Linked DNA regions of Homo sapiens. The protein of the gene in region 1 interacts with the protein of each later gene in a biochemical or structural test. Each region holds a gene or a part of one and is shown on either strand. Other genes may lie near its edges. The genes, in order: ACKR4 and CCL25.

Region 1 (15,236 bases):
TAATCCCAGCACTTTGGGAGGCTGAGGCAGGTGGATCACCTGAGGCCAGGAGTTCAAGACCAACCTGGCCAACATGGTGAAGCCCTGTCTCTACTAAAAATACAAAAATTAGCCAGGTGTGGTGACAGGCACCTGTAATCCCAACTACTCAGGAGGCTGAGGCAGGAGATTTGCTTGACCCCGGGTGGCGGAAGTTGACATGCGCTGAGATGGCACCACTGTACTTCACCCTGGGCAACAAGAGCGAAACTCTGTCTCAAAAAAATGAAAAAATAATTAATTAATTCTGCATGTGAAAGCATTTTCAAACTTAGAAATAGTGGTTGAAAGAAAAAGTAATTTTAAAATAACATATGTTGGTTAGGTGATGTTTAAGAGCAGAAAACATGTCATTTTTTGTAGTTTTAGAGATAAAATTCATTAGTGCATACTATTTTTGACCAATGTAATTGCTAGCAAAATTTAATTTTAGTAGGAGCATATTACATGGATTATAATAATTTACAGCAAATTTTTTTAAAAAAGATAAGCTGTACATGTTAATTAACAATAATTTATTGTGGTACATATTTTTATTACTCAAAAATAAAGTGTTTAAATGAAAATAGGACATTTTATGCATGGGATAATGTATTTTTTAGTCAATCGGCAGTGGTAGACTTGTATAAACAGATGAATTCTTTAGGAAGTTAAGAAATTGGAACCCAGATGAAAATGATAGTCTGAGGATTACACCTAGACTATATATGATAAACCTAACATTTGTCATGATAACCAGTTATTAGTAAGAAAGTTGACATCATAGAAGCAAATTATGTCTTTAGGAACTTACCAGGAATGTTTTGAAAAGAATCAGAAAAGCTTATTATAGTTTGTTTTTTTTTTATTGCTTTTTTGGAGGAGGTGGATTTTATAAAATTACTTACAAATTTAAAAAAAACAGGAAAAAAGATAGTTGGAGTTCTGCTGCATACTTATTCAAGTACTAAAATTATGCAGGGAAATCGTTCTTGTATTAAAACTTAGATAATTAAAAATAATTATAAATGCCTTTTAACATGAACCTCTTTAATAATCTGTTTTAGATGGCCTAACTTATAGCATAGTGGGTTTTTTTTTAACTTGTTTTATTTTGAAATTATTATAAATTCACAGGAAGTTACAAAGATGGTACAGAGTGGTCCTGGGTACCCTTCACCCAGTTTTCCCCAATGGTTCCATCTTACATAATTATACTATAATGTCAAAACCAGGAAATTGAAATTGGTACAATGTGTGTATATAGTTCTGTGTCATTTTATCACTTGTGTAGATTTGTATAAGCACCACTGCAACCAAGATACAAAATTATCACCACAAAGCTCTTCTTCGTTACAGCAGAGTGTTATTCACTTATGCCTGTTACAATTATTTTCCTATATTGTTCATTTTAATTTTCATGTTTTGTACATTTATTATCTTGTTTCCTCTTCTTGGCTTTTATTTCTCCCCCTTCCCCCAACCCATTCTTTATTATAAGTTGCAACCACGGCGTCTGAGATTTGAGTTTCAGAATAATGCAGATGTTTTATTTGAGGGGAAAGCATCATTCATATGTATCCAAGCAAAAGGCAGAGCAGTTTTACCTTTAAATGCTAAAAGTACTGGTTGGCTCTGTAGGACCCTCAGAATCAAAAGGAAACTCCTCCACACTTTGTCTCTGTCTTCTCCAGGACCCATATTTCTTGGCCACTTTCATAACGTAGTTTTTGAAAGATGCTCCCATAAAAACATAAAGGATTGGGTTGAGGCAGCTGTGAAAGAGTGCGATGCTTTCTGTGACTTGGATGGCGATGTCCATGCGTTTGCTCATGTTGCAGCTGGTGATCAGGGAGTAGATGATGTCTATGGCTCGGCAGAACTTGACAATGTTATAAGGCAGTTGAGTGACAATGAAAACTATAACGACTGTGAGCAGAACTTTTAGGGGTCGAGATATTTTAATGTTTGGCATCTTCATGAGTGTCCTTGCTGTGATAAAGTAGCACACCCCCATAATAAGAAAGGGTACTACAAATCCAATGCAGATCTCTAGCATTTGAATCAATGCTTTCATTGATGTTCCTAGGTAGCGGGGGAAAATGGGAATGCACCTAGCATTGTCATTTACTGTATAAAAAACCAGCTGGGGTATGCTCAGCAAGATGGCAGCCATCCAGACACAGAAACAGATGATCCAGCATGGTTTTCCCACTCCTGATTGGCTGGGGACTTTAGTTACTGCCACATATCTGTCTATGCTGATACAAGCCAGAAACTGCATTCCAGAGACAAAGTTTAGTGTGTACAAGGCTGAAGTTATTTTGCACATTATTTTCCCTAAAACCCACCCATGAACTGCATTAACAGCCCAAAAAGGCAGAGTGAATAGAAGGAGTAAATCTGCTACAGCCAAATTCAGGATGTACACATCTGTTTTGGTTCTCTGTTTCTTGTAATAGGCATAAATTGCCACTACCATGGAATTGCCTGCAAGTCCAATGACGAAAACTATTGTGAGGAATACAGGGAGGAAAACTTTTGCAAATTCTCTGACATCTTCTTTGATACAGATCAGTTCATATTGACTGTAGTCATAAGTGCCATTCATTTCATTTTCCTCATAATAATAATCTGTTGACTGGTTCTGTTCCAAAGCCATGGCTCCAATCTAGATGGCAAAGAGAATACAGGATAGATATTTGTCTAAATATGCTTAAAAGGAAACAGTTTTTATCAAGCTGTTTTGTTCTTTCCCTAGAGTATAGCCTGTTGCTGTAACATATGTGAGCCTGAATCTAGCACTCTTTGAAATGCTTTAATGGGAGCCACATTGGAATATGACCCCAAGATTAGTTACTCAAACTTTGCTTGTACAATTCTGTGTGAAAGAGCTTGGATTTGAACAGGACAATAAACATAATGCCCTGGAGAATTTTCTTAATCATTAAATCCTAAATAAAAGTGAAGACTTTTATGTAAAAATGATTTTTAAAATATGAAAATTTAATTAGATTTTAACTAAAAAGAATAAATAGTGTTATAATCTTTACATACATAATTTTGTGAATCGTAAAAGTATATCTACAACAAATTGAATAAAAACGAAAATAGCAAATTACTTGGTTTATTTAAATTAAATTTATTTTTTATTTTGATGTTATTTATAAATTTAATTTAAATAAGTTAAATAAATTCTCTCAGCATTTGCACTAAATTTCACTAGTTGCCTTTTATAAAACAAGATCTCCTTTAGCCAACTTCCCTCCAAAACTGGTCACTACTTGCTTATTGTATACTGTTTTTTAGTAGCACCACTATCTTCTAATCATCTAAGCTGTAAGCCTGCTTCATTCTTGTCTTCTCTCTTACCTTCATCCCTGCTTCCCAATCAGTTCCCAAGTTCTGATTCTGCCTTCCAAGTAGGTCTTGAATCTGTCTTCTCCTCTTAATCTGCACTCTTCCACACATTTGCACAATTCAGCTATTATGTTTCTCACCTAGCCTACTGCAATATCTTTCTTTTTTAATATTTAATATTTAATTTTTTTTTTGAGATGGAGTCTCATTCTGTTGCCCAGGCTGGAATGCAGTGGACAATCTCGGCTCACTGCAACCTCCGCCTCCCGGGTTCATGCGATTCTCCTGCCTCAGCCTCCCAAGTAGCTGGGATTACAGGTACACACCACCATGCCTGGCTAATTTTTTCTATTTTTAGTAGAGATGGGGTTTCACTATGTTGGCCAGACTGTTCTCGCACTCCTGACCTCGTGATCCACCTGCCTCGGCCTCCCAAAGTGCTGGGATTACAGGCGTGAGCCACCGAGCCCAGCCTATTTTTAAATTTTAATCCATTTATTTATTTATTTATTGACCAGGTTATGAGTCTGTATAACTTTTTGTATTTTTGATAGAGACGGGGTTTTGCCAGGTTGCCAAGGCTGGTCTCAAACTCCTGGGCTCAAGCAATCTACCTGCCTTGGCCTCGCAAAGAGTTGGAGTAACAGGCATGAGCCACTGCACCTGGCCAAGCAGTATCTTTCTAACTGATAGCCTGTTGTTACTCCTCCTCAATACCTCCTTTTCAAAAACGTTTTTCTTACTTCCACCAGAGTATTTGATCTCTAAATTGCCAATCTACCTCTCCTCTGTTTTGTTCCTCATCTGGAAGACACATCTCTTCACCTGAAAGCCACAATCCAAGCTCCTTAGCATAACACCCAAGGCTCCCTTCATAATGTGGTGCCATCCATGGCTCCTGCCACCTCTCCCTACTCTGTGTCCACACTAGAGACAGTGATAGGACTAATTTCTCAGCAGTGGGCTGGCACCCACCATGCAGCAGCATCTGTCTACATCATTGCTCATTCTGTTCCTTTATCTACCATACAATTTCCTGCCCTTCCCTGGAAGGGCCAATTCCTACTCAATAAACGCGGATGCGACCTCCCCAGAAGACTTTCCTGATGTATTAGCAATCTCTACATACCCCTCAGAGAACTGATCCATTCTGTGGAAAGGATGCGTTTCCCATACTACCTTGTTCCTCTAGGTTTTAAGTTCCTCAAAGCATGACCTATTTGATTTGTGTTTGTAAATAAAATCTTGTTAATGTGCCTGGCACAAAGTAGCTTCTCAGTAAATATTTGTCAAATTAAAGCTTTTGCCAACAGGTATAAAGCTGTTACTCTAGAATGGATAGATAGTATGCCAGAAATCTTCTATGTCAACATTGTTATTGCACTATGTTGGCTACTAGCACCCCGTAGTATTAAGATAAGCTTGCACAGAATTCGTAAGTTTTGGAATGTATAAAATAATGACTTTCAGTGTTTTTATTATAGTGCTGAATTTTGTTTTCCTTTTTCTTATCCTTTCTATTTTCCTTGGGTTCTTTTTGTCCTCTGAAGTATCTCAAATATTCTTATAGAATCAATAATGAAAATATTATTTTTAAAACAGTGTGCCAACTTATAGTACATTTTCAAAAGAAATGTTCTTATGTTTGCTAACTTTTTTTGAATGAATATAGCAAAGAAAAGAAGGCTCTGAAGAAAGACACCACATAGAAGAATTGCTTTCATTATGTAAAAACCGGGTGCCAACTTTTTTAAATGACTCTTTTTATCATTAAAGTTACTTAAAAAGTTCCAATCTGGAAGACTACTCTGGTCTTCATGTTCTTATGCATTAATTATTAACACAGTATGAACCTTGTTCTTCCTTTCTCTTTCATCAGAAAATCTTGAACCTGATGATAAGAAATAATATGGCCAAATATTATAATATATTAAGGAAGGGAATTTTTAAGTAAGAATTAATCTTACTAAAAATGTGAGTAAAAAAGAGTAGAAATGGAATTATTTGCAGAAATGATCCTTCCGGCAGATATATAGACACGCTTTTAAGTGTCTTTATAATTACCATGAGAATAAAAAAAAAATCAGTACTTGTAAAAGAAAGTGAAAAAAAGTGGTATAATAAAACCTATTTTCTCCTTAACAAAGTTTTACCGACAAGTAATGGCATTTAAAATCGTATTTTCTTCTTGCTATATTAAGATTTTCATTTAAGGTTAAACTGTACAGCTATTTTCAAGTAACCCTTTTTTTTTTTTTTACAAGTAAGCATTTAAACTTTTATGCATCAAGACTCCATCTATATAAGTAAATATACAAGATCTTTGGGCTTAAAAAAATATTCAAGTCAGAATAAGAAAAGAAATAAAGTACCAACCTGTTGTAGTCGGCAGAGAGGAGCAGTCTTGAGTACAGAGTATAAAATCAAATGACCTAACTCCAGCTACTTTTGTTTTCACTTTACACCCCGCCTTTATCTTGTATCCAAGAAGGCTTTCCTGAAATTTAACCTTGTGAGCACTTGATATTTTATTTCCTGTAAAACCATCTGTGAAGTTAAATTCAACTTCTTAAGTGGTTTAGGTTACAAATTTGAGAAAATCCATCTTTTTTCAAAAACTATAGACCTTTCATAGTTTCCACTTAGTCAAAGGGGACAAGAAAGTGCCTGCAGCTGAGCTACTGACTGCTGAACCAGAAGGAGAATCCACCTGAGGGCATCTAGGCAGCACTTGTAGGTAGCATCTAGAGAAATACTCTCTAAAGTTATTTTGCCTAAGGAAGAAAGCAAATATGATTTTAACCAAGGAAAATATCTTTTTGAAGACTAAATTATCAAAGATTAAATTATAAGTAATCATTAGGTATTTGCAATAGAATTTAACATTTTTATGCCACATCATTTAATATTTATTTAAACTACTAGAGTCTTCCTGGCTTCACTGTACTTTCTCTATCCTTGTCCCAGAGTATTTTCCCATGGCTTTAAACTCTCTTGCTTTCTTGTTACCTTTTTTCCCAAAGCTAGAATATGAACCTTCAAAATCCTTCAGTCTGGGAGGCTGTTTATTTTTTCCACATTTCCACACAAGTAAGTTAGAGAAAGAAGAGAAATTTATGCTGATTTGGCCCTCATGGTCTATTTGAACTTGGCTTTCCTCAAATTTGCATGGCAGTTATCTATTTTTTCATGCAAGGCCAGGCTCAGTCTCCACCTGCAGAAATTATTTCAGACCCATGCCATTTTTTCTATTTTTCTCTTTTTTAAAAAAAAACTTTTAAGTTCAGGGGTACACATGCAAGTTTGTTACACAGGTAAACATGTATCATGGGGGTTTGTTGTGCAGATTATTTTATCACCCAGGTATTGAGCCTAGTACCCATTAGTTATTTTTCCTGATCCTCTTTCTCTACCACCCTCTACCCTTTGATAGGCCCCAGTGTGTTTCCCTCCATGTGTCCATGTGTTCTCATCTTAGCTCCCACTTATAAGTGAGAACATGCAGTATTTAGCTTTCTGTCCCTTTGTTAGTTTGCTAAGGATAATGGTCTCCAGCTCCATCCACGTGCCTGCAAAGAACATGATCTCATTCTTTTTTATGGCTACATAGTATTCCATGCTGTATATGTACCACATTTTCTTTGTCCAGTCTATCATTGATGGGCAAATATTTAGGTTGATTCCATGTCTTTGCTATTGTGCATAGTGCTGCAATGGACATATGCATGCATGTGTCTTTATAATAGAATAATTTATATTCCTTTGGGTATATACCCAGTAATGGAATTGTTGGCTCGAATGATATTTCTGTCTTTAGGTCTTTGAGGAATTGCCACACTGTTTTCTACACTCCCACCAACAGTTTGTAAGTGCTCCTTTTTCTTCACAACCTCACCAGCAGCTGTAATTTTTTGAGTTTTTAATAATAGCCATTTTGACTGGTGTGAGATGGTATCTCATTGTGATTTTGATTTGCATTTCTCTAATGATCAGTGATGTTTAGCTTTTTTTCATATGATTGTTGGCGGTATGTATGTCTTCTTTTGAGAACTGTCTGTTCACATCCTTTGCCCACTTTTTAATAGGGTTGTTTTTAATTGTAAATTTAAATTTCTTATAGATGCTGGATATTAGACCTTTGTCAGATGCATAGTTTGCAAAGATTTTCTCCCATTCTGTAAGTTGTCTCTTTACTCTGTTGATAGTTTCTTTTGCTGTGCAGAAGCTCTTCAGTTTAATTAGGTCCCATTTGTCAATTTTTGCTTCTATTGCAATTGCTTCATCATGAACTCTCATAGTAGTCTACAAGATCCCACAAGGTCTGCCTCCATCCCTCATTGTCTCTCTGACCTCATTTCACACTACTCACCCCTTTGCCTACTTGTTCTGCCATACCCAGCTTCTTGCTGTTTGAGAGCATACCAGTCACAATCCTATCAGGGCTTTTGTGCTGGCTCTTCTGTCTGCTGGAATGTGCTCTGTCTTAGTAATTGCAAAGCTCACTTCCTCTTCTCTTTCAAGTCTTTGCCCAATCACCACCAGCTCACTGAGGCAATTCTTCACTACTCTACTTAAAATAACCCTCATCCATCTGGACTCCCAGTCCACCAGACCCATAGCACTTAACATGTTCTAATGCACCATATCATTTATGCTGTGATTGCTGTAATTTGTCTTTCACCCTGTATTAGAACATAAGCTTCATCAGAACAGGGACTTTTGTTTGCTTTGTTCATTGATATATCCCGAGTACCAAGAATAATACCTGACACATAATGACTACTCAAAAATATTTTGAATTAATAAAAACATTCTACTGTCCATTTTGATTATTATCTAACAACTGGTCTGCAACTGCAGCCTCCATAATTATCAGATAATAATCTCTTTGATCTTTCTATATGATACACAATACTGACTTTTAGGCATTTGCAAGTACTATTATTCCTGTCTAGAGCACTCTTCCCACCCTATTTTAGTTCCCTAACTCCTATTTACAATTCAGATTTAGGTCTGACCTTAACATTAATCCAGGAAGCCTTCCATAACTCTTTCAGATTAGATCAGATATACCAGTCTTTTCACTGTATTGTTGGTACTTATTTAAATTTTCTATCTTCCATAGCTATCTTATACCCTGCTGTATCCTCAGCATTTGGCTTGGTACCTTACTCATGGTACCAGCTTAATGAATAATGATTAAATTCATGAATCAATCAACTGATATTTAAGTAACTTATCCTCCACAGACATAAAGTTTAGCAATGGAGCTGGAGTTCTAAATTCAGATCTTTAGTCTATTTTATCATCTTATCTCTTATATCTCTTTATTTTATGATGCCATCTATTATAGAATCTTGATACTCTTTTATAGATTCAAAAGTATCTATCCCTTTCCTTTATTTACCCCACCCCCAACAACCATAAGCTTTTTTGTAAATGGGATTCCTTTATTGCAAATCGGTTGTAATGCTATAATCTTTACATCTTTTGAATTTACACATTGTTTTTGCTAATTCAGACACATACAAAGCCCTTGAGGCATAGGGGATCTCAGGATTGAGCAGCTTCCTCTGGTAGCGTGTGTATGAATGCTGTGTATAAATCATAGTGTATGAATCATGGTGAAACTAGCTGACTGGCTGGCCTTTTCCTGTATTTTCCCTTTTCTCCTGATAGAACTAGGAGAGACAGTGGTAATAGGGAAATTTGACAAAATACGTGAAATAATCATGTAGCTTAGAGGGTAGGCAGAAGCATCACTCACCTTAGGCAACTTTTCAAAGTACTTACTTGATGCTTCTTTAGCTCTCTTCTACTTCTCATATTCCTTAGAACTGACTATGATTCCATTTTGCTGCTTACCATAAATTGGCTCCTACTCTTAACCTCCCTAACATAGCAATGTCCCTTGTTCTTGAAGAATCTCTCTCCCCACACCCTCTTCTCATCCCTCCTCTTGTACTGTCATTTTGCTATGTTGCCCAGCCTGGCCTCCAACTCCTAGACTCAAACAATCCACCCATCCTGGCCAACAAAAGTGCTGGGATGAATCTGTAATTTTGATGAATATTGCCAAATTGTATTCCATAGGGATGGTATTACTTTGTTCTCTACCAATAATGTATAGAAATGTCTGTTTTTCTAAAATATTGTCAATAGAATGTGTTGTTTTACTACCACTTTGCTTTCTAAATGACTTGTAACAAATTCAGCACCCCTTACCTACCCTTGCCAGGCATGTGTGGAATACTGGATAATAAACTGCTTTTGAATGTTTTCATTATTGCTGTACTCCACGTTTATTTGATTAGTGGTAAAGTTAAGCAATTTTAAAAATCTCTTTTATTATTCTTATTTCCTCTTTTTGCAATTGTGTTCTTTGCCCATCTGTATACTGATTTTTAGGTGTTCTTTATAATTTAGGGAGCTAAGTATTGCATACATTTTGTCATAAATGTTGAAACATTCCCCCCCAATTTTTTTTTGCTTTTAAATTTTATTTTCTAATGTACAGCAGTTTTATATAGACAAACCAATTGATCTTTGTCTGATTTTGATTTCATTTATCATTTTTAAGTTTTAAAATCCTTTCTCACCCAGAGATTTAATAAATATTATATTATTTTTCTTCTAGTTTTTTTATGTCTTGGTTTTTTTTAATTTTCAACTCTGCTCTATTTGGGATTTATTTTGATCTAACCATTTTCTATAGTAACAACAGTAATAGCAGCAGCTTGTAACATTATTACTTAATTCTTATTATTTAGATGTAAACCTAGAGATGGATTCAGTGAATTTTGAAGATTTCCCTGTTAAAAATAACACACACTCTAAGAGAACACATGGGATTTTTTTTCTTTAACTGTGGGATTGTACAATGAACATCTTTTTTCATATAAGGGAAATTTTATTGTAAAATAGTACTTACTCCAATTTGAATTGTTAGTATTAAAGCTAAAACCAAATGAAGTTCAGGTGTTCTACCTCAGAAATTCTATGTTGGTAGAAGAAACGGCCTTGAGAATTTGTGGATGGCTATCTATGCTTCATAGTATGTAATTGTTTACATCACTTTCTTAATTGTTACAAACCACACTATACTCAAAGGTCATGTTTTTTTATCCACCTATCATCTCTCCTTTTGTTAGAAAATGATTTTGTGGGTAAAAGCCTAAGAAATTAAAAATCATCAACTAACATCAGGGAGATGTAATTTTTAGCCTGACTTAATCCTGGCACTTGAACAGCCTTGAAATACCACAGTGTCTGGATTAAAAACAAAATTACTTTATCTAAGCCATCTGTTTTCATTCATGAAGGCCTGTGACACAGCATATATGTTTAAATGTTCTCTGTTCTATTCAGATTTCCTCTAATATATTTTATTTATGACATTGGGTATCTTGTTCATTAACTAAAATGACACAAACAAGCAAAACTCTCTATAAAAGAAGGTTGTTTCAACTGCTGCACTTGCCAAATTCTGCTTGTAGCTAAGGGGAGATGATATCTTTGGGAAGGGTTTTTCTCATTTTTCTGAAACATCATTGTTAAATACAAATATTTCAAATTCTACAAACTATGTATTCACCCTTACTTCCTCTACTTCATGATGACAACAGACATCCAACTTAAAAATTGTATTTTTTAGAATATTAATTGTTCTCCATATAAGATTGAGGAAGACAGAATCAAAGAATTATTTGCCTTACTTCTTGAGTTTCTTCAAAATTTACCTGGTATCGGAAATCTATTGGGCATTTATATAAGGCTGTGGCAACATTTTTGTTTCTTTGCTTTGTTTGGAGACAAAATCTCACTCTATTGCCTAGGCTAGAATGCAGTGGCATGATCACGGCTCACTGCAACCTTGACTTCCCGGGGCTCAAGCAGTCCTGCCATCTCAACATCCCGAGTAGCTGGGACTACAGATGTGCTGCACCGTGCTTGGTGAATTTTTAAATTTTTTTGTATAGACGAGGTGTCGCTAGGTTGCCCGGGCTGGTTTCAAACTCTTGAGCTCAAGCGATCCTGCCACTTCAGCCTCCCAAAATTCTGGGATTACAGATATGAGTCATCATGCCCGGCCAACATTTTTAAATGATAGAAAGAATGAGGTAAGAAGTAATATTGGGAAATATTAGATACAAAATTATATATTCTGAATATTCGAAAAAGAGGGCTTTAGACCAGGGTTCAAAGGAATTAGAAGATTTTACTTCAGCTCACTGATGCTGGATAGCTAGCATCAGTGAAACCTTGAAAGATTTACCCAGATGTTCTTGATTGCCAGAATGGAAAGTAGAGAAAGAAAAATATCTCTGAAAATGGGCACATAGACCAATGGAACAGAATAGAGCCCAGAAATAAGGCTGCTCACCTATGACCATCTGATCTTTGACAAGGCTGACAAAAACAAGCAGTGGGGAAAAGACTCCCTATTCTATAGATAGTGCTGGGATAACTGGCTAGCCATATGCAGAAGATTGAAGCTGGACCCGTACCTTACACCATATACAAAAGTTAATTCAAAATGAATTAGAGACTTAAATGTAAAACCCAAAACTATAAAAACCCTGGAAGATGACCTAGGCAATACTGTCCTAGACATAGGGGTGGGCAAAGGGTACATGACAAAGACACCAAAGGCAATCACAGCAAAAGCAAAAATTGACAAGTGAGATCTAATTAAACTTAAGAGCTTCTGCATAGCAAAAGAAACTATCAGCAGAGTGAGCAGACAACCTACAGAATGGAAGAAAATATTTGCAAACTATGTATCTGACAAAGGTCCAATATCCAGCATCTATAAGGAACTTGAACAAATTTACAAGAGAAAAACAATCTCATTAAAAAGTGGGCGAATGACATGAACAGAAACTTTTCAAAGGAAGATATATATGCAGCCAACAAAATATGAAAGAAACCTCAATATCACTGATCATTAGAGAAATGCAAATCAAAATCACAATGAGATACCATCTCACGCCAGTCAGGATGGCTATTATTAAAAAGTCAAAAAATAACAGATGCGGGTGAGGTTGTAGAAAAAAAGGAACACTTAATACACTGTTGGTGGGAGTGTGAATTAGTTCAACCATTGTGGAAAGCAGTATGGAGATTCCCCAGAGAGCTAAATACAGAACTACTGGCCGGGCACGGTGGATCATGCCTGTAATCCCAGCACTTTGGGGGGCTAAGGCGGGAGGATCACTTGAGGCGAGGAGTTTGAGACCAGCCTGGCCAACATGGCAAAACCCCAAAATACAAAAATTAGCCAAGCATGGTGGCCATGCCTGTAATCCCAGCTACTCAGGAGGCCAAGGCACGAGAATCACTTGAACCTGGGAGCAGGGAGATTGCAGTGAGCTGAGATCGCGCCACTCTACTCCAGCCTTGGCAACAGAGTGAGACTGTCTCAAAAAAATCCAAAAACAAAAACAAAAAACCCAGAACTACCATTCAACCCAGCAATCCCATTACTGGGTATATACCCAAAGGAACAGAAATTATTCTACCATAAAGACATATGCATGTGAATGTTCATTGCAGCACTACTCACAATGGAATCAACCTAAATGCCCATCAATGACAGATTGGATAAAGAATATGTGGTACATATACACCATGGAATACTATGCAGTCATTAAAAAGAATGAGATCATGTCTTTTGCAGGAACATGGATGGAGCTGGAGGCTATTATCCTTAGCAAATTAGCACAAGAACAAATACCGCATGTTCTCACTTATAAGTGGGAACTAAATGATGAGAACTTACGAACGCAAACAAGGAAACAACAGACACAGAGGTCTGCTTGAGGGTGGAGGGTGGGAGGAGGGAAAGGAGCAGAAAAGATAACAATTGGGTACTGGGCTTAATACCTGGGTGGTGAAATAATCTGTGCAACAAACCCTAATGACACAAGTTCACCTATGTAACAAACCTTCACATTTACCCCCCAAACCTAAAATAAAAGTTTGCTTTTTTTAAAGAAAATATTTCTAATGAAAATGAACCTCAAATCATGTTGTTATGTCCTAATCTGATTTTCAGAAGTATGCCCACCATGGAGTATGCCCACACAATGCATTATGTGGGGCAAGTAGCGTTGATCCTTCAGCCTGTAGGCATCTAGAGAGGCACTGGCCAAGGCTTCCTACAACTAAAACCTCAAAGATAGTCCCAAGTAGAAAAATATCCAGTTGAAAAATTAGAAGTGAACGCTCTGTAAATGATTCTTCCTCTATAATTTCTAACTAAGAATCAAAGCATGATTGCATATTATTGCATAGCCAGGGATAAAAGATTACCCCAACTGAGCATTTCCAGATAAGTCATTTAGGTAAGATCCACAATGAAAGGTAAGTATTGTCATCTGCCATTAAATCATCCTAATGTTCTTTGGGTTGGTCCTCAGATTAGTGGAATTTTGTCATAGTCCATTCAGGCCACTATTACACAACACCATTAATTAGGTAACTTCTAAACAACAAAAATGTATTTCTCATGGTTCTAGAGGCTGAAAAGTCTAAGAACAAGGCACCAATAGAGTTGGTGCCTGGTGAGGGCCTGCATTCTGGTTCATAGATGGCACCTTCTTGTTCTGTCCTCATATAGTGAAAAAGGTGACCAAGCTCTCTCAGGCCTCTTTGATAAATACACTAATTGCATTTTAATCACTTAATCACCGCCTTTCGGACCAAAGGCTTCATCTCCACATAAAATCAGCTTGGGGGTTAGGATTCCAAAACATGACTTCTAGGGGGTGACATATACATTCAGACCATAGCAGTTTCTTTACCTGTTAGCATCTATAAAATCAAAAGGACATATTTCTGTAAATATAAACAATGATAAACAATTTGAAAATTTAGACGTTTGGATAAATTAGGAAAGCCAAATAGAGTTACTGTGAAGAATATGACATTTAAGATTTTTAAAACTTAACTTTGAAATATGTGAATGGGGGATCTTTTCTCATTAGTACAAATGAGGATGGTCCTTTCTGAACTGATTAAAACAAGATTCCATTAAATTTGAAGGAATCTAAATTATAAGCAACAGTTTTAAAGCCGTTGCATTTCAATCTTAACTATATTTTACGTATGTTATTTATAGTATGGAATAATGGAGGAGATTAGAATTTTAAGCTCTTGGTTTTATTGGTTTTGAAATTTTAGAGCTAAGATTTCTAGTTCTGCTTATGTGATCATTTTGAAGTGAGCATTGCATTTCTCAAACTTCAGCTGATAAATAAAACTCATATATTTGTCATGAATAAAAATGTATATTTGTATTCAAATATTAATGAATGTATAAGAAATTATAACACTGGGTAAGTGAAGACCTGATTTTTGGCAAAGTTTAAAGGTAAGAACTCTGGGGGAGTTCTACGCTAGTCTGGTGGAGTAAGTGCTTAAGATGAACCTTCCCACAGATAACAGCTAAAAAGCTACAAAATACCTACATGCATACATACATACATACATACATACATACATACCTGCCTGCCTGAAATTCTCAGGGAAGTGAACAAAGGCAAGCTGATTTTGTAGGGGAGTCAAAATTTGGAAAGTGAGATGGGCACAGGGTGAGTTTTTCATTTTTAGACTTTAGCCTGAGGAAACAGTGTGGAACAGGAAAGCTAAAGCTTCTTTAGAAAACTCAGATCTCTGTGTCCTGAGGAACCAGAGGAGAGTGTCTAGGGCAACCATCACTGCTGGGAAATGAGGTGGGTATTCCTGGAAAGGAAAAAGCCAGAAAAGGGGAGCTCCAGCTTTCATGTGGAAACTTTGCTTGGGTCTCTGGCTAACTCCTGAATGAAAGTAATGCGCAGGGCAAACTCAAAGCACCT
Region 2 (15,872 bases), on another chromosome or scaffold:
TGGGCTTGGCACGTGAGGCTCCAAATAGCTTCTCCCTGCCTACCTCATCTTCCGCTATCCACCCCCGCACCTCCTGCCCCAGATACTCTGCACTTGGCAGTTCCCTCTAGCGTCCTGCCCTGCTGGTCTCTGACTAACACGAGGTTGTCCTTCAGGTCACCATTCAGCTGCAGGTCCCCCTGGAGACAGGTGGGATGCCCTTCACATCCCCACAGCCTGATGCAGATGTTCCTCCAGGAATGTCTGATCAGGAGACATGGCAGCCTAAGGCAGAGCAAGGTGGCTCAGGCCTGTAATCCCAGCACTTTGGGAGGCCAAGGCGGGATGATCCCTTGAGCCCAGGAGTTCAAGACCAGCCTGGGCCACATAAGGAGACCCTGTTTCTACAAAAAGTTACAAAATTAGTCGGGCATGATGGCATGTGCCTGTAGTCCCAGCTACTTGTGGGGCTGAGGCAGGGGGATCGCTTGAATCCAGAGGTCAAGACTACAGAGAGCTGTGATCATACCACCGCACTCCAGCCTGGGCAACAGGAACATTATCTCGGCCAGGCACAGTGGTTCATGCCTGTAATCCCAGCACTTTGGGAGGCCAAGGTAGGCGGATCGCTTGAGGTCAGGAGTTCGAACCAGCCTGGCCAACATGGTGAGACCCCATCTCTACTAAAAATACAAAAATTAGCCGGGTGTGGTGGTGCGTGCCTGTAATCCCAGCTACTGGGGAGGCTGAGGCAGGAGAATTGCTTGAGCCTGGGAGGCGAAGGTTGCAGTGAGCCAAGATCGCACCACTGCACTCCAGCCTTGGCAACAGAGTGAGACTCTGTTTCAAAAAACAAACAAACAAACAAACCAAAAAACAAAAAAAAACCCAAAACCAAAAACAAATCAGAGACATTATCTTGAAAAAAAAATCCTCCTATTAGCTGTGAGGGCCACTTGGAGAGTGGTATTATCTGCCTTCTGTCTCCAGCTCTCTGCACATCACTGGGCACCTGTTTTTACTTACTTAATTAATTTGTTTAGAGACAAGCGACTTAGTCAAGTTACTTGGTCAAGCAATGTAACCTCTCTCAGCCTCGGTTGATTGTTCTTTCCCTATAAAGTAGGAATGAATTTTAACCTAATAAGGTTCTTGTTACCTCAAGCCACTCTCTTTAAAGGCATCCACTAGCTGGGCGTGGTGGTACATGCCTGTAATACTTAGGAGGCTGAAGTGGGAGAATCACTTGAGCCCAGGAGGTGGAGGTTGCAGTGAGCCGAGATCGCACCACTGCACTCCAGCCAGGGTGACACAGTGAGACCCTGTCTCAAAAAAAAAAAAAAAAAAAAAAAAAAAAAACGGCATCCAGCCCATCCCTAGTCTCTTCCAATCACACCAGCATTGGTGACAGTGATCCTCATCTGAAAATTGTTTTTAAATTTTTTTTAAATTAAAATTTGTTTTTCCTTGTCAGCAGAAAGTCACATCTGAATGTCTTGCTTCATTACTTGCTGCTTCTCTTGTCTGCAATGCTACTAGGCACTGAGCACGTGGGACTGACTCCTTCACTGCTTGTCCCCAGCACCCAGCTCAGTGCTGGGCACATAGAGGGTGCTCAATAAGTGTTTATTGAATGAATAACAAATGGTCCCACATAGATGTTCCATGAGGCATCTGTGACATCAACATCATCATTTTTTTTTTTTTTTGAGATGAGTTCTTACTCTGTTGCCCAGGCTGGAAGGCAGTGGTGCAATCATAGCTCACTGCAGCCTTGAACTCCTGGGATCAAGCAATCCTCCTGCCCCAGTCTCCTGAGTAACTGGGACTATAGATGCCGGTCACTTTGCCTGGCTATTTAAAAAAAAAAAATTTTTTTTTTTTTTTGTAGAAATGGGGGTCTTACTATGTTGCCCAGGCTGGTTTCGAACTCCTGGGCTCAAGTGATCCTCTTGCCTTGGCCTCTCAAAGTGTTGGGATTATAGGTGTGAGCCACCACGCCCAGCCAGCGATCATCATCTTTGATAGTTGCAATGTGTCGGCTTGCTCACTGCTGTCACCCTGGGGCACCCTGGGGCCCCGCATGTGGCTGGAACATAAGGGATACTCAGAAAACAGATGTGGAAAGGGTGAGTAGAGCTCAGCACGTTCAAAGAGGGACTCAGGACCCTATGGGACCCTCTCCCCAAGGCCTGCCACCCTCTCTCTCCATGCAACCCCTCCTCTAGCCCAAGGCAGCAGGGCCAGGATCAGGCAGTCACTCTTCCCAGCTGTCTGGCCCCCGCACATCCTGCAGGGGCAGGACAAGTACAAGGATGAAAGCCAAGGTCATGAGCTCGGTAATACCAGTAGTCTGAATCCCTCTGGAGAACCACGGCCCCTGCCCAGGCCACTGCTACAGCTGTCCCCTGGAAGACAGAGGCCTCAGGTTAGCCTGGGGTGGGGATCCCCTCAGAACTGACTTTCCAGGAGCCAGCAGAGCCAGCTACATCAGGGACTTAGGGTTCAGGTTAGAGTTAACCAAATTCTCGAACATCAGGCCAAGGGCTTGCAAGACATCCTGGAAAAACCCTTCTTCCTTCCTCCTCCTTCTCCTCCTCCTCCCCATCCTCCTCCTCCCCCTCCTCCTCCTTCTCTTCCCACTCCTCCTTCTCCTCCCCCCCCTTCTCCTCCCCCTCCTCCTTCTCCTCCCCCTCCTCCTTCTCCCCCTCCTCCTCTTCCCCCTCCTCCTTCTCCTCCCCATCCTCCTTCTCCTCCTCCTTCTCCTCCTCCTTCTCCTCCTCCTCCTCCTCCTCCTCTTCCTCCTCCTCTTCCTCCTCCTCCTCCTCCTTCTCCTCCTCCGGTTGCTGGGCAACCACTATGCATCTGGACCAAAGCAAGAGGCAGCTGGTTTAAAGACACACATAGACTGAAAGTGAAGGGAGGCAAAAAGATATTCTTTGAAAATGAAAACCGAAAGAGATCAGGGGTAGCTGTACTTGTATCAGATAAAATATTTTTTAAGTCAAAACTCTAACATGAGAGGAAGAAGGTCATTATAGAATGAAAAAGGGGTCAGTTCATCAAGAGGATAAAACAATTATATATATATGCACCTAACATCAGAGCACCTAAATATATAAAGGAAATATATATAAAGGAAATATGAACAGATCTGAACTGCAATACAGGAATAGTACTGCACTTTCAACAATGAACACCAGCCTGGGCAACAGGCCACAAAATTAAAAATATACATTTGTGGGTTGTGGTGGTGCATATCTGTAGTCCCAGCTACTTGGGAGGCTGAGGCAGGAGGATTGCTGGAGCCCAGGAGTTCAAGGCTGCAGTGAGCCATAACAACATCACTGTACTCCAGCCTGGTGGACAAACTGAGACTCTGTCTAAAAAAAAAAAAAAAAAAAAAAAAGGCAACGAACAGATCCAGGCAGATAATCAGTAAGGAAACATTGGATTTGAAATGCACTGTAGATCAAATGGAACTAATGACATATGTAGAACATTCCATTTGACAGCAGCGGAACGCACATTCTCCTCAAGTGCACAGGGGACATACTCCAGGATAGATCATGTTAGACCACAAAGCAAGCCTGAACAAATGTAAGATTGCCAGGTGCGGTGGCTCACACTTGTAATCCCAGCACTTTGGGAGGTCAAGGCGGGTGGATGACGAGGTCAGGAGATCGAGACCAGCCTGACCAACATGGTGAAACCCCGTCTCTACTAAAAATACAAAAAATTAGCCAGGTGTGGTGGTGGCGGGCGCCTGTAGTCCCAGCTACTTGGGAGGCTGAGGCAGGAGAATGGCGTGAACCCGGGAGGTGGAGCTTGCAGTGAGCCGAGATGGTGCCACTGCACTCCAGCCTGGGCAACAGAGTGAGACTCCGTCTCAACAACAACAACAAAAAAACAAATGTAAGATTGCGATTGTATCAAGTATCTTTTCTGACCACAGTGATACGAAACTAGAGATCAATAACAGGAGGAATTCTGGAAAATTCACACGTGAGAATTCAACAACACTCTCCTAAACAACCAATGTGTCAAAGAAGAAATTAAAACGAAATTAAAAAATATCTTGAGGCCAGGTGCAGTGGCTCACGCCTGTAATCCCAACACTTTGGTGGCTGAGGCAGGAGGATCACCTGAAGCCAGGAGTTCAAGACCAGCCTGGGCAACATAGTGAGACGCTCCCCCCATCTCTACAAAAAATAAAAATAATTAGCCAGGCATGGTGATGCTCACCTGTAGTCCCAGTTATTTGGGAGGCTAAGGTGGGAGGAACACTTGAGTTGGAGGCTGCAGTGAGCTACGATTGTGCCACTGCACTCAGCCTGGGTGATAGAGGGAGATGTTTCTAAAAACAAAATAAAACAAACAGAAACAACAACAACAAAAAACTTGAGACAAACTGAAATGGACATACAATATACCTAAACCAATGAATGCAGCAAAAGTGGTTCTAAGAGGGAAGTTTATAGCAATAAATAAATGCCTACATAAAAAAGAAGAAAGATCTTTCAAATAACCAAATTCTCTTTAAAAAGAGGTAACTGGAGGCTGGGCATGGTGGCTCAAGCCTGTAATCCCAGCACTTTGGGAGGCCAAGGCCAGCAGGTCACTTGAGGTCAGGAGTTCGAGACCAGCCTGGGCAACATAGTGAAATGTAGTCTCTCCTAAAAATACAAAAATTAGCCAGACATGGTGGTAGGCGCCTGTAGTCCCAGCTACTCGGGAGGCTGAGGCAGGAGAATCGCTTCAACCCGGGAGGTGGAGGTTGCAGTAAGCCAAGATCCTGCCACTGCACTCCAGCCTGGGCAACAGAGCAAGACTCTGTCTCGAAAAAAAAAAAAAAAAGAGGCAGCTGTGGGTACAACAGGAGTCCAGGCCTGGCAGACGGGGCTCCTGGGGTGTGGATTGCTCCCTACAAGACTCGTGACCATGCAGGGCAGTGGGGGCCCATCAGAAGCCAAGAGTCTCATCAGGGACCTGGAGGCACCAGAGTTCAGGAGAGCTGCAGGCAGCTGGGGTCTGATATGCAAAAGTGACTACAGGAGGACCCCCACTTCTGCCCATAGTGTTCTCCCAGTGCCCCTGAGCCTTTGCCGATGACCTCCCAGTCATCTGCTCTATGGCGCTTCCCCATTGGGGGACTGTCCTTTTCTTCACAGTATTTAAGAAATAAAAATTAGATTTTCCTGGCCAACAAAAAAAGTAAGTAACTTGGCTTCTCTGACCCTCAATCTCCTCCTTTGCACAGTTGGGCCAATGGTGAGCACCCAGGAGCATCCTTCATCCCACTAGAGGTGCCTGCCACTGGGTAGGGCAGATGTGGTGGTGGCTGGTGCAGGCTTCCCAGAACATCTCATCGCCCCTGCCCACCACCTGGCCACTGCAACCAACTGGGCTTGTCTAGAAAGACACCTGCCTACCCACCCAACCCTGCAGGCTCTGGGGTATTGGTCTCTGAATTTGGCTGAGCTACAGGATGGAGACCACCCTCAACTGCTCCCATCATCAGAGGTGCAGAACAGAAGTCGGTGTGGGGGGCACTTGTTCCCCCCAGCTGTGCTGATTTCACACTGGCGGAGAAGAGGACCCTTGCTGATAGCGGACTGCTCTTTTATTTTTTTATGAGATGGAGTTTTGCTCTTGTTGCCCAGGCTGGAGTGCAATGGCAAGATCTTGGCTCACTGCAACTTCCACTTCCTGGGTTCAAGCAATTCTCCTGCCTCAGCCTCCCAAGTAGCTGGGATTACAGGTGCGCACCACCATGCCCGGCTATTTTTTTTTTTTTTTTGTATTTTTAGTAGAGATGGGGTTTCACCATGTTGGCCAGGCTGATCTCGAACTCCTGACCTCAGGTGATCCGCCCGCCTCGGCCTCCCAAAGTGCTGGGATTACAAGTGTGAACCACTGCTCCCGGCCGATAGCGGATTACTCTTAATGCCCCCAGCTGCTGCAGGAGTGGAAGAGGCCAGTCCAGCCCCGACTGTGAAGGTCTGGCCTTTACTCAAAGCAACTGTGGTCCTCAGAACTCCGGGATCATCCCGTTTCTTGCTCCAACCCCTGGGTCCCAGGTCCCCAGCGCGCCCACCCCAGTGCTCCGTGCTTGCTGGTCCCTGGAGGGCCCCCTTACTGGGAACCCTTCCTCCCCGTGAAGGCTGCCGGCGGGACAAACAGTGAGGGGTGAGGCAGGGAGGGAGACTCACGTTGGGGACCTCCCCCAAGTCTGGGTAACACCGTCTTGGCCGCGGCCCGCGGGTTGGGAAGGTAGGGGGCAGTGAGCCGTAGCGGAGAGGCTGGCCCCAGCCCGCCACGCCGCTTCCCCACGCTCGCAGCCACGCGGAGCCGCGTCCTGGTCCAGCCTCACCCACCCAGAGCAAGAGGCGGAGGAACTGGAACAGCGCCCCGGCCCGTGGGCTGCCACTGGCCGCAGCAACGGGACGGGTGAGAGCACCTGCCCCCGACGCGTCTTAACTGCTCTGGTGGGGCGGGGCTGACCGTGCAAGCCCCGCCCCAGTCTAAGCCCCTCCTACAAAGCCCGGCCCCTTACCATAAGCGCCATCTGTCAGGCTCCGCCCACTGTCTTAAATCCCACTCACTCTGCCCTGCCCCTGACTCGGAGCCATATAGCAAGCCCCGCCCATAGCCATAAGCCACGCCCACCCAGCCCTGCCCCTGGGCTCTAAGTGTCATTTATCTAGTCACGTCCCCGGCTAGAAGCCACACCCACCAGGCCCGGCCCCACCTCTAAGCCCCACTCACCCGGCCATGTGGTTTGGGACAGGGAAGTAGGCTAGGGGCCGCCGCCTCTGGGCTCCCAGTGGAAGGGGAGAAATGAGAAAGGAGTTTAGGATGTGATAAATACCCACAGAGGTCAGATGTAGCTATGGATGCAGGCGATAAAAAGTTTAAAGCAATCAGCTGTGCGGCCTCTGCAGCGCTCCTTTCGCCCTCCCTAATCTTCACCTCGTGTCTCCCCCAGTCCCTGTGTCCTGGCTGGGTCCTGCTGCCCCAGGGAAAGAAGACATGCCTTCTCCCATCCTGGCTAACATGGTGAAACCCCGTCTCTACTAAAAATACAAAAAATTAGCCAGGCGTGGTGGCGGGAGCCTGTAGTCCCAGCTACTCGGGAGGCTGAGGCAGGAGAATGGCGTGAACCCGGGAGACGGAGCTTGCAGTGAGCCGAGACAGCGCCACCGCACTCCAGCCTGGGCAAAAGAGCAAGACTCCGTCTCAGAAGAAAAAAAAAAAAGACATGCCTTCTCGGTGAATGTTGCTTTGCTTCCTGAGGGCATGGCTACCCGGGGCTCCTGGCTTTTCTTCCAAAAACAAAACATTTCTTCCATTTTTTCTTTTTCTTTTGTTTTTTTTTTTTTTTTTTTTTTTGAGACAGAGTTTCACTCTTGTCGCCCAGGCTGGAATGCAGTGGCCCAATCTCGGCTCACTGCAACCTCCGCCTCCCGGGTTCAAGCGATTCTCCTGCCTCAGCCTCCTGAGTAGCTGGAATTACAGGTGCCCCCCCACCACACTCGGCTAATTTTTGTAATTTTAGTAGAGATGGGGTTTTGCCATGTTGGCCAGGCTGGTCTCGAACTCCTGACCTCAGAGGATCCGCCTGCCTCGGCCTCCCAAAGTGCTGGTATTACAGGTGTGAGCCACTGTGTCCGGCCACCGTTTTTTTTTCCATTTTTTGAGACAGGGTCTTGCTCTGTTGCCCAGGCTGGAGTGCAGTGGCATGATCACAGCTCACTGCAGCCTCAACCTCCAAGGCTCAAGCAATCCTCACACCTCAGCCTCCTGAGTGGCTGGGACTACAGGTATGCACTACTACGTCAGGCTAATTTTTTAAAAAATTTTTGTAGTGACGCAGGTCTCTCTATATTGCCCGGGGTGGTCTTGAGCTCCTGGGCTCAAGCAATCCTCTGGCCTCGGCCTCCCAAAGTGTTGGGCTTACAGACATGAGCCACCATGCCTGGCCTAGAGAGTTTCTTTCTTGTTGGGGTTGTTCACCGGTGGGAGGTGCACCATTGTGCCGTGCTGACTATATTCATAGAGTTATGTAACCATCACTCTCATCTAATTTCAGAACAAAAGGAAACCCATACCCTCTCACAGTCAGTCCTTCATTCTCCCCTCCCCCCATCCTGTGGCCACCGCTAATTTACTTTCTGTTTCTATGGATTTGCCTGTGATCACAACCAGAGGATTTCTGTGACATGCTAAGTTACCTAACCATGGTGTGGAAGGAGAGGGAAATGGAGTGAAGTTGGGGACCCACCAGGGAACAGGTGGCTTGAGGGCGGGGGGAGCATGAAGGTAAGGGCTTGTTTGGGGGCTCAAGGCAGTCTGAGCCTTGTTCGCAGGCAGCCAGTGTCCACCAGGTGTGTGCAGGTGAGGGAAACAGGGGAAAAGGCCCTTTCTGGAGACAGTAGGGGTGCTGGCTGGGAGGCCTGGGATGGGGAGTGGGGAGGCAAGGGGGCCTGTGGGTCGAGGTTGGAGCTTGCTGTAGAAGAGGGAGAATTCCAGAGGCTGAGAGTGCAGGTGGAGAGGAGGAGGAAGGGAGGAGGGCGGGCAGGGGGTGGCTGGGTGGGGCTCTGTCTATAAAGAGTGAAGCTCAGCGTGTTGGTCCTGCAGATGGGACAGCTTGGCCTACAGCCCGGCGGGCATCAGCTCCCTTGACCCAGTGGATATCGGTGAGTCTTTTCCTTGAACATGACTGAGATGAACAGCTTTTCCCTCCAGCACAACTTGTTCCTACTTTATACAACCTCCTTCCCTTGCCATATGCCTGGGGCTTAAGAGGGGGGATGTTCCCAGTACCCACTCCCCTCCTCTTCCTCAGTCCTTACCACTTCCCTCCACGACCCCAGGTGGCCCCGTTATTCGTCCAGGTGCCCAGGGAGGAGGACCCGCCTGCAGCATGAACCTGTGGCTCCTGGCCTGCCTGGTGGCCGGCTTCCTGGGAGCCTGGGCCCCCGCTGTCCACACCCAAGGTACTGTGTTCGGCAATGCCTACCACCAAGTGCCCCTCTCCCCATGCCCCCACCCCACCCCTTTTGTCTCTTATCTCCTCCGGAAGTCTCCCCAATCCCATCTCCACTGAATTCTCCCGCTCCTGACATGCAGGAACTCCTGGTGTTTGGTTAGCTCTTGGGATGGGGTCGGGGAGATGGAGAGTCCCCAGTTCCTTCTTCGAGAGCCCCATGGAGTCTTTTGCAAGACTCCTAAAGATGTGAGGGAGCAGAGGGTGGCTTCCAGCTGTGGGCAAAGCCAGTTACTGCCAGGGATGTATTGTAGAATCCTAATCCTGCCGAGCCAGGGGTGGGGTTGGAGATCAGGGCCCTGGAGACTGACAAGAGTGGATTCCCATCCTGGTCCCTCCATGCAGTCCAGCTGAGAGTTAGTTGCTCCTAAACCATTTTTTTTTTTTTTTTTTTGAGACAGAGTCTCACTCTGTCACCCTGGCTGGAGTGCAGTGGCGCGATCTTGGCTCACTGCAACCTCCGCCTCCTGGGCTCAAGCGATCCTTCTGCCTCAGCCTCCCAAGTAGCTGGGACTACAGGCGTGTGTACCATGCCCGGCTAATTTTTGTATTTTTTAGTAGAGATGGGGTTTCACTATGTTGGCCAGAGTAGTCTCGATCTCCTGATCTCAGGCGATCCGCCTGCCTCAGCCTCCCAAAGTGCTAGGATTACAGGTTTGAGCCACTGTGCCCGGCTTCCTAAACCTTTAGGAGCCTCCGTTTCCTCAGCTGCAAAGTGGGAATCTAAAATTCCCACTGCATGGCTCTGACTTGAGGGTCCAGTGAGCTCATGCCTGCAAAAGACTAGGCCTCATGTCTGGCGGCGGCAATAGTAACTGTTCCTGTTATTAATAGGGAACTCTTTCCTTCTTCCCCACTCCCTACCGCAGAGCAAGCACTTGAGGATTTCAGTCGCCAAAGGACAATTCCTGGGCCTGGGGTGTCCCCACGGGAGCCCTGACACTGGGTCCTACATCCTCTGAGTTTCAGCAGCTGGCCAAAGCAGGGTCCCTGGCTGGGCGGCAGACCCAGGGTCCCACCCTCCTTCCCTGTCTGCCCCCACCTGACCCACCTGCCCCTCGGCTGGGTCTGATGGGTCCAAGTCCTTGGCCTTTGCCTGGGAAGGGGGTTGGGCTGTGGTCTGATTGTTTTGCTATCAGAGCCAGGCCCAGCCCAGCCCTTCGATCCTGGCCTCCAGCCTTGGGAACTACCTGCCTGGCACTGCAGTCCGAGGTTCCAACAGAATGCGCTGCCCCTTGCCCTCAGAGGCCGCGGTTGGGAGACACCTGGAGGGCTCGAGTCCTCCCTTTCCCTGCTCCTGCTGGGCTGGGCTCTGCAGGGACTCAGACTCGGCCTCTGGAGGTTAGTTCTGGCAGAGGTGAGATTGCAGAGAACTCCAAAGGCCATTTAGGCAGAGAATTGCACCCCAGCTTCCTCCACTATCTCATCAGCTCATCCTCGGCTCATTCATTCCACCTGCTCATCCCCCCAGAACTTTCTGGCATCACCTCCTCCTCCTCTGGGCACCCCCCACAGTGCCTGTGCTTCCCCCTTTCTGCAGAGATCAGTTTCCCGGGAGCTCCCTGAAGACAACACTAGGTCTAATTCATCTGTGTGTTTCATCTCTGCTTGTCTAGACATTGACATTTACTGAGAGCTCTTTACTTTGTATTAAAACAATTTTTTGTTTGTTTGGTTGGTGTTTTGTTTTGTTTCATTGAGACAGAGTTTTGCTATTGTCGCCCAGGCTGGAGTGCAATGGCGTGATCTCGGCTCACTGCAACCTCCACCTCCTGGGTTCAAGTGATTCTCCTGCCTCAGCCTCCAGAGTAGCTGGGATTAAAAGCGCCCACTATCAGCCAGGCACAGTGGCTCACGCCTGTAATCCCAGCACTTTGAGAGGCCAAGGCGGGTGGATCACAAGGTCAAGAGATCAAGACCATCCTGGCCAACATGGTGAAACCCCGTCTCTACTAAAAATACAAAAATTAGCTGGTCGTGGTGGCGGGCGCCTGTAATCCCAGCTACTCGGGAGGCTGAGGCAGGAGAATCGCTTGAACCCGGGAGGCAGAGGTTGCAGTGAGCTGAAATTGAGCCACTGCACTCCAGCCTGGGTGACAGAGTGAGACTCTGGAAAAAAAAAAAAAAAAGGCGCCCACCACCATGCCTGGCTAATTTTTGTTTTTTGTTTTGTTTTGTTTTGAGACGGTGTCTCACTCTGTCGCCCAGGCTGGAGTGCAGTGGCGCGATCTCGGCTCACTGCAAGCTCTGCCTCCCGGGTTCACGCCATTCTCCTGCCTCAGCCTCCCGAGTAGCTGGGACTCCAGGCGCCCACCACCACACCCGGCTAATTTTTATATTTTTAGTAGAGACGGGGTTTCACCGTGTTAGCCAGGATGGTCTCAATCTCCTGACCTCGTGATCCGCCCACCTTGGCCTCCCAAAGTGCTGGGATTAAAGGCATGAGCCACCGCGCCCGGCCTAATTTTTATATTTTTTAGTAGAGACGGGGTTTCACCATATTGGCCAGGCTAGTCTCAAACTCCTGACCTCAGGTGATCCACCCACCTCAGCCTCCCAAAGTGCTGGGTTTACAGGCATGAGCCACTGTGCTGAGCTGCCAATCAGCTCATTTTTAGGAGGGAAGAACTTGGCTGGGGAGGGGTGGTGTTGGCCCCTCCTCACAGTGCACCTGCACTCCGAGTCACCCTTTTCCCCAGAGCAGGAGTAGAGGTGGCCTTGGTCCGTTCATTTGCTGGTTCCACACCCTTCCCAGCCGGGACCCAAGGGTCCTCTCCAACCTCTGGCTGTCCCAATATCCAGGGATAAGGGGTGAGCCAGGAGGCTTTTTCTTTCCTAAGGCTGTTCCTCAGCCTCTGCCGGGCCTGGAAGGGTTGTGGTATGAGCAGACAGGTATGCAGACAGGTGCCCTTGCCTGTGGCTGGCCCTGCCAAGTTAACATGCAAGGGTGCGAGTATCTGGGCGGCTGTGTGGTTGCAGGTGTCTTTGAGGACTGCTGCCTGGCCTACCACTACCCCATTGGGTGGGCTGTGCTCCGGCGCGCCTGGACTTACCGGATCCAGGAGGTGAGCGGGAGCTGCAATCTGCCTGCTGCGATGTGAGTGGGGCCGTGGGGGCTGGGGGGGTGGGGTGCACACACAGCCTTGCTGCCAGCCTACACCCTAACCTGGGCACCCCCCTCTGCTCACCACAGATTCTACCTCCCCAAGAGACACAGGAAGGTGTGTGGGAACCCCAAAAGCAGGGAGGTGCAGAGAGCCATGAAGCTCCTGGATGCTCGAAATAAGGTTTTTGCAAAGCTCCACCACAACACGCAGACCTTCCAAGGTGGGCAAGACCTCTGCTGGGCATCTAGGGGGCCTGCCCTCCCTGCCTGCAAGCCCATGTGTGGTTCAGACCCCGAGGGAGGGAATTGGAGACCAGAATACTGACACCTGCCTGAACCCCAAACAAAGCCAGTTGCTGGTGAGTGGGGCACCAAGTGAATGACCAACTGATTGAGTCATTGTCCAGTTTTTGTTTCTGGAGATGGGGTCTTGCTCTGTTGCCCAGGCTGGAGTGCAGTAGCATGATCATAGCTCACTGCGGCCTCAAACTTGTGGGTTCAAGCAATCCTCCCACTTCAGATTCCCCAAGTAGCTGGGATTACAAGTGTGTGCCACCAGTCCAGCTCTTTTATTATTATTTTGAGACAGAGTCTTACTGTGTCACCCACGCTGGAGTGCAATGGCGCCATCACAGCTCACTGAAGCCTTGACCTCCCAGGCTCAAGCAATCCTCCTACCTCAGCCTCCTGAGTAGCTGGGACTACAGGCATGCTCCACTAATCCAGCTCATTGTTATTTTATTTTTTATTTTTATTTTTTGAGATGGAGTCTTGCTGTGTCATCCAGGCTGGAGTGCAGTGGCACGATCTCGGCTCACTGCAACCTCTGCCTCCTGAATTCAAGCGATTCTCCCGCCTCAGCCCCCTAAGTAGCAGGAGCACAGGCCCACGCCACCACGCCTGGCTAATTTTTGTATTTTTAGTAGAGACGGGGTTTCACCATGTTGGCCAGGCTGGTCTCGAACTCCTGACCTCAGATGATCTGCCCGCCTTGGCCTCCCAAAGCACTGGGATTATAGGCATGAACCACCATGCCTGGCTCCAGCTCATTATTATTATTATTATTTTGAGACAGGGTTTTACTCTTGTCACCCAGGCTGGAGTGCAGTGGCACAATCACATCTCACTGCAGCCTTGTGTTCCTGGGCTCAAGCAATCCTCCCACGTCAGCCTCCCAAGTAGCTGGGATTACAGGCACACACCACCATGCCTGGGTAATTTTTTATTTTCATTTTGCAGAGACAGGTTGTGCCATGTTGCCCAGGCTGGACTTGAACCCCTGGACTCAAGCAATCCACCTGCCTTGGCCTCCCAAAGTGCTGGGACTACAGGCATGAGCCACTGCACCCAGCCAGTCCAGCTCTTTTAATCAGGACACTTTCCACTGGTACAGATGGAAAGCTCAAGCACATGGGAGACTCATTGGCTTAAATAACCAGTCAACAGCTTCAGGCTCAGCTGGATCCAGGAGCTCAAAGGATGATGGCAGAGCTCTTGCTTATTTCTCTCTCCATTTCTCCAGCAGGCCCTCATGCTGTAAAGAAGTTGAGTTCTGGAAACTCCAAGTTATCATCGTCCAAGTTTAGCAATCCCATCAGCAGCAGTAAGAGGAATGTCTCCCTCCTGATATCAGCTAATTCAGGTAAGGACTCTTGGTCATGTGACTGTCTCCCATCCATCACCTTTGCTGAGGGTTGAGGGCTCGTGATTGGCTCACACTGGGACAGGAGATTCACCTCCAGGACCCAGGAGAGGTGGTTGTGCGGTCAGTGCCGCAGATTCACAGGGGAGGGTCCTCGGTGGCTGTCCACTGCTGTGACTCAGCGCAAAGACACCACAGCAAGTGAGAAAGTAAAGCCCCAGGGGAGTGGCCCAAGAGCTCCAGGGCCCCCCAAAGCCAGCAATTCTCCAGCAGGGACCGGGTGGTTGTCCTGTAATTCTACTGAATTCTGACATTGTGTGTGTGTGTCTCTCTCTATATATACATATAAAATATATATAAGTAAATATATAATATATAAACATATATAATATATAAGTAAATATATAATATATAAATATATATAATATATATAAGTAAATATATAATATATAAATATATATAATATATAAGTAAATATATAATATATAAATATATATAATATATAAGTAAATATATAATATATAAATATATATAATATATATAAGTAAATATATAATATATAAATATATAATATATATAAGTAAATATATTATATATAATATATAAATAATATATAATATATAAATACATATAATATATAAAAATAATATATAATATATAAATATATAATATATAAATAATATATAATATAAAGTATATATAATGTATAAATAATATATAATATATAAATATATATATTTATTATTATTTTTTTTTGAGATGGAGTCTCACTCTGTTGCCCAGGCTGGAGTGCAGTGGCGCGATCTTGGCTCACTGCAAGCTCCACCTTCCGGGTTCACGCCATTCTCCTGCCTCAGCCTCCCGAGTAGCTGGGACTACAGGCGCCCGCCACCACGCTGGGCTAATTTTTTGTATTTTTAGTAGAGACGGGGTTTCACCATGTTAGCCAGGATGGTCTCGATCTCCTGACTTCGTGACCCACCCGCCTTGGCCTCCCAAAGTGCTAAGATTACAGGCGTGAGCCACCGCGCCCAGCCTAAATATATAAATATATAATATAAATATATAAATATATAATATAAATATATAAATATATAATATAAATATATGTAATATATAAACATATATGTAATATATAAATATATATAATATATAATATATATAATATATATAATGTATATATTTATATATAATATATAAATATATATAAATATATATTATATAATATATAATATATATAATATATAATATATATAATATATAAATATATATATTATATATAATTAATATTTTTTTATGGCAGGGTCTCACTCTGTTGCTGAGGCTGGAGTGCAGTGGTGCCATCTCGGCTCACTGCAACCTCCGCCTCCAGGGTTCAGGCGATTCTTGTGCCTCAGCCACCCAAGTAGCTGGGATTACAGGCATGCATCACCACGTCTGGCTAATTTTCATATATTTATTAGAGATGGGGTTTCGTCATGTTGCTTAGGCTGGTCTCTAACTTCTGGCCTCAAGCAATTCTCCCACCTCGGCCCCCCAAAGTGCTGGGATTGCAGGCATGAGCCACTGTGTCCAGCTGACATTGTCTATCTGGAGGTAGTGACACAATCCACAGGTTAAGGACTCAGTCCCACAAGACTGCCCCCATTTCAGATGCTGGTTGCAAGTAGCAAGTTGTCACTTTATTTCTGACTGATTGTCTGTAAGTCAGGGCTTCCACCTCTGGTTGGATCATTCGATAGAACAGCTCACAGGACTCATGGAAGCGCTCTACTTGTGTTTACCATTTTATTGTAAAAGATTACAAAGGGGCTGGGCATGGTGGCTCACGCCTGTAATCCTAGCACTTTGAGAGGCTGAGGCAGAAGGATCAATTGAGCCCAGGATGGCCGGGCGCGGTGGCTCATGCCTGTAATCCCAGCACTTTGGGAGGCGGAGGTGGGTGGATCACGAGGTCAGGAGATCGAGACCATCCAGGCTAACATGGTGAAACCCCAACTCTACTAAAAATACAAAAAATTAGCCGGGCGTGGTGGCAGGCATCTGTAGTCCCAGTTACTCTGGAGGCTGAGGCAGGAGAATGGCATGAACCTGGG

What was found.
Region 2: the proteins of ACKR4 (region 1) and CCL25 form a complex in vitro, tested with the Homo sapiens proteins (one study listed by BioGRID).

What each region holds. Positions count from the first base shown.
Region 1 is NC_000003.12:132,587,842-132,603,077, reverse strand, and holds ACKR4 (atypical chemokine receptor 4), read right to left. Parts: upstream 5,809-15,236; 5' UTR 5,755-5,808; intron 2,942-5,754; exon of another isoform or gene 2,690-2,941; 5' UTR 2,681-2,689; coding exon 1,628-2,680; 3' UTR 434-1,627; downstream 1-433. UniProt on the Homo sapiens protein: Atypical chemokine receptor that controls chemokine levels and localization via high-affinity chemokine binding that is uncoupled from classic ligand-driven signal transduction cascades, resulting instead in chemokine sequestration, degradation, or transcytosis.
Region 2 is NC_000019.10:8,044,145-8,060,016, forward strand, and holds the start of CCL25 (C-C motif chemokine 25 isoform 1 precursor), read left to right. Parts: upstream 1-8,615; 5' UTR 8,616-8,619; coding exon of another isoform or gene 8,620-8,678; intron 8,679-8,855; coding exon of another isoform or gene 8,856-8,905; coding exon 8,906-8,978; intron 8,979-9,897; coding exon of another isoform or gene 9,898-9,968; exon of another isoform or gene 9,969-10,698; intron 10,699-12,007; coding exon 12,008-12,125; intron 12,126-12,221; coding exon 12,222-12,355; intron 12,356-13,656; coding exon 13,657-13,776; intron 13,777-15,872. UniProt on the Homo sapiens protein: Potentially involved in T-cell development. Recombinant protein shows chemotactic activity on thymocytes, macrophages, THP-1 cells, and dendritics cells but is inactive on peripheral blood lymphocytes and neutrophils. Binds to CCR9.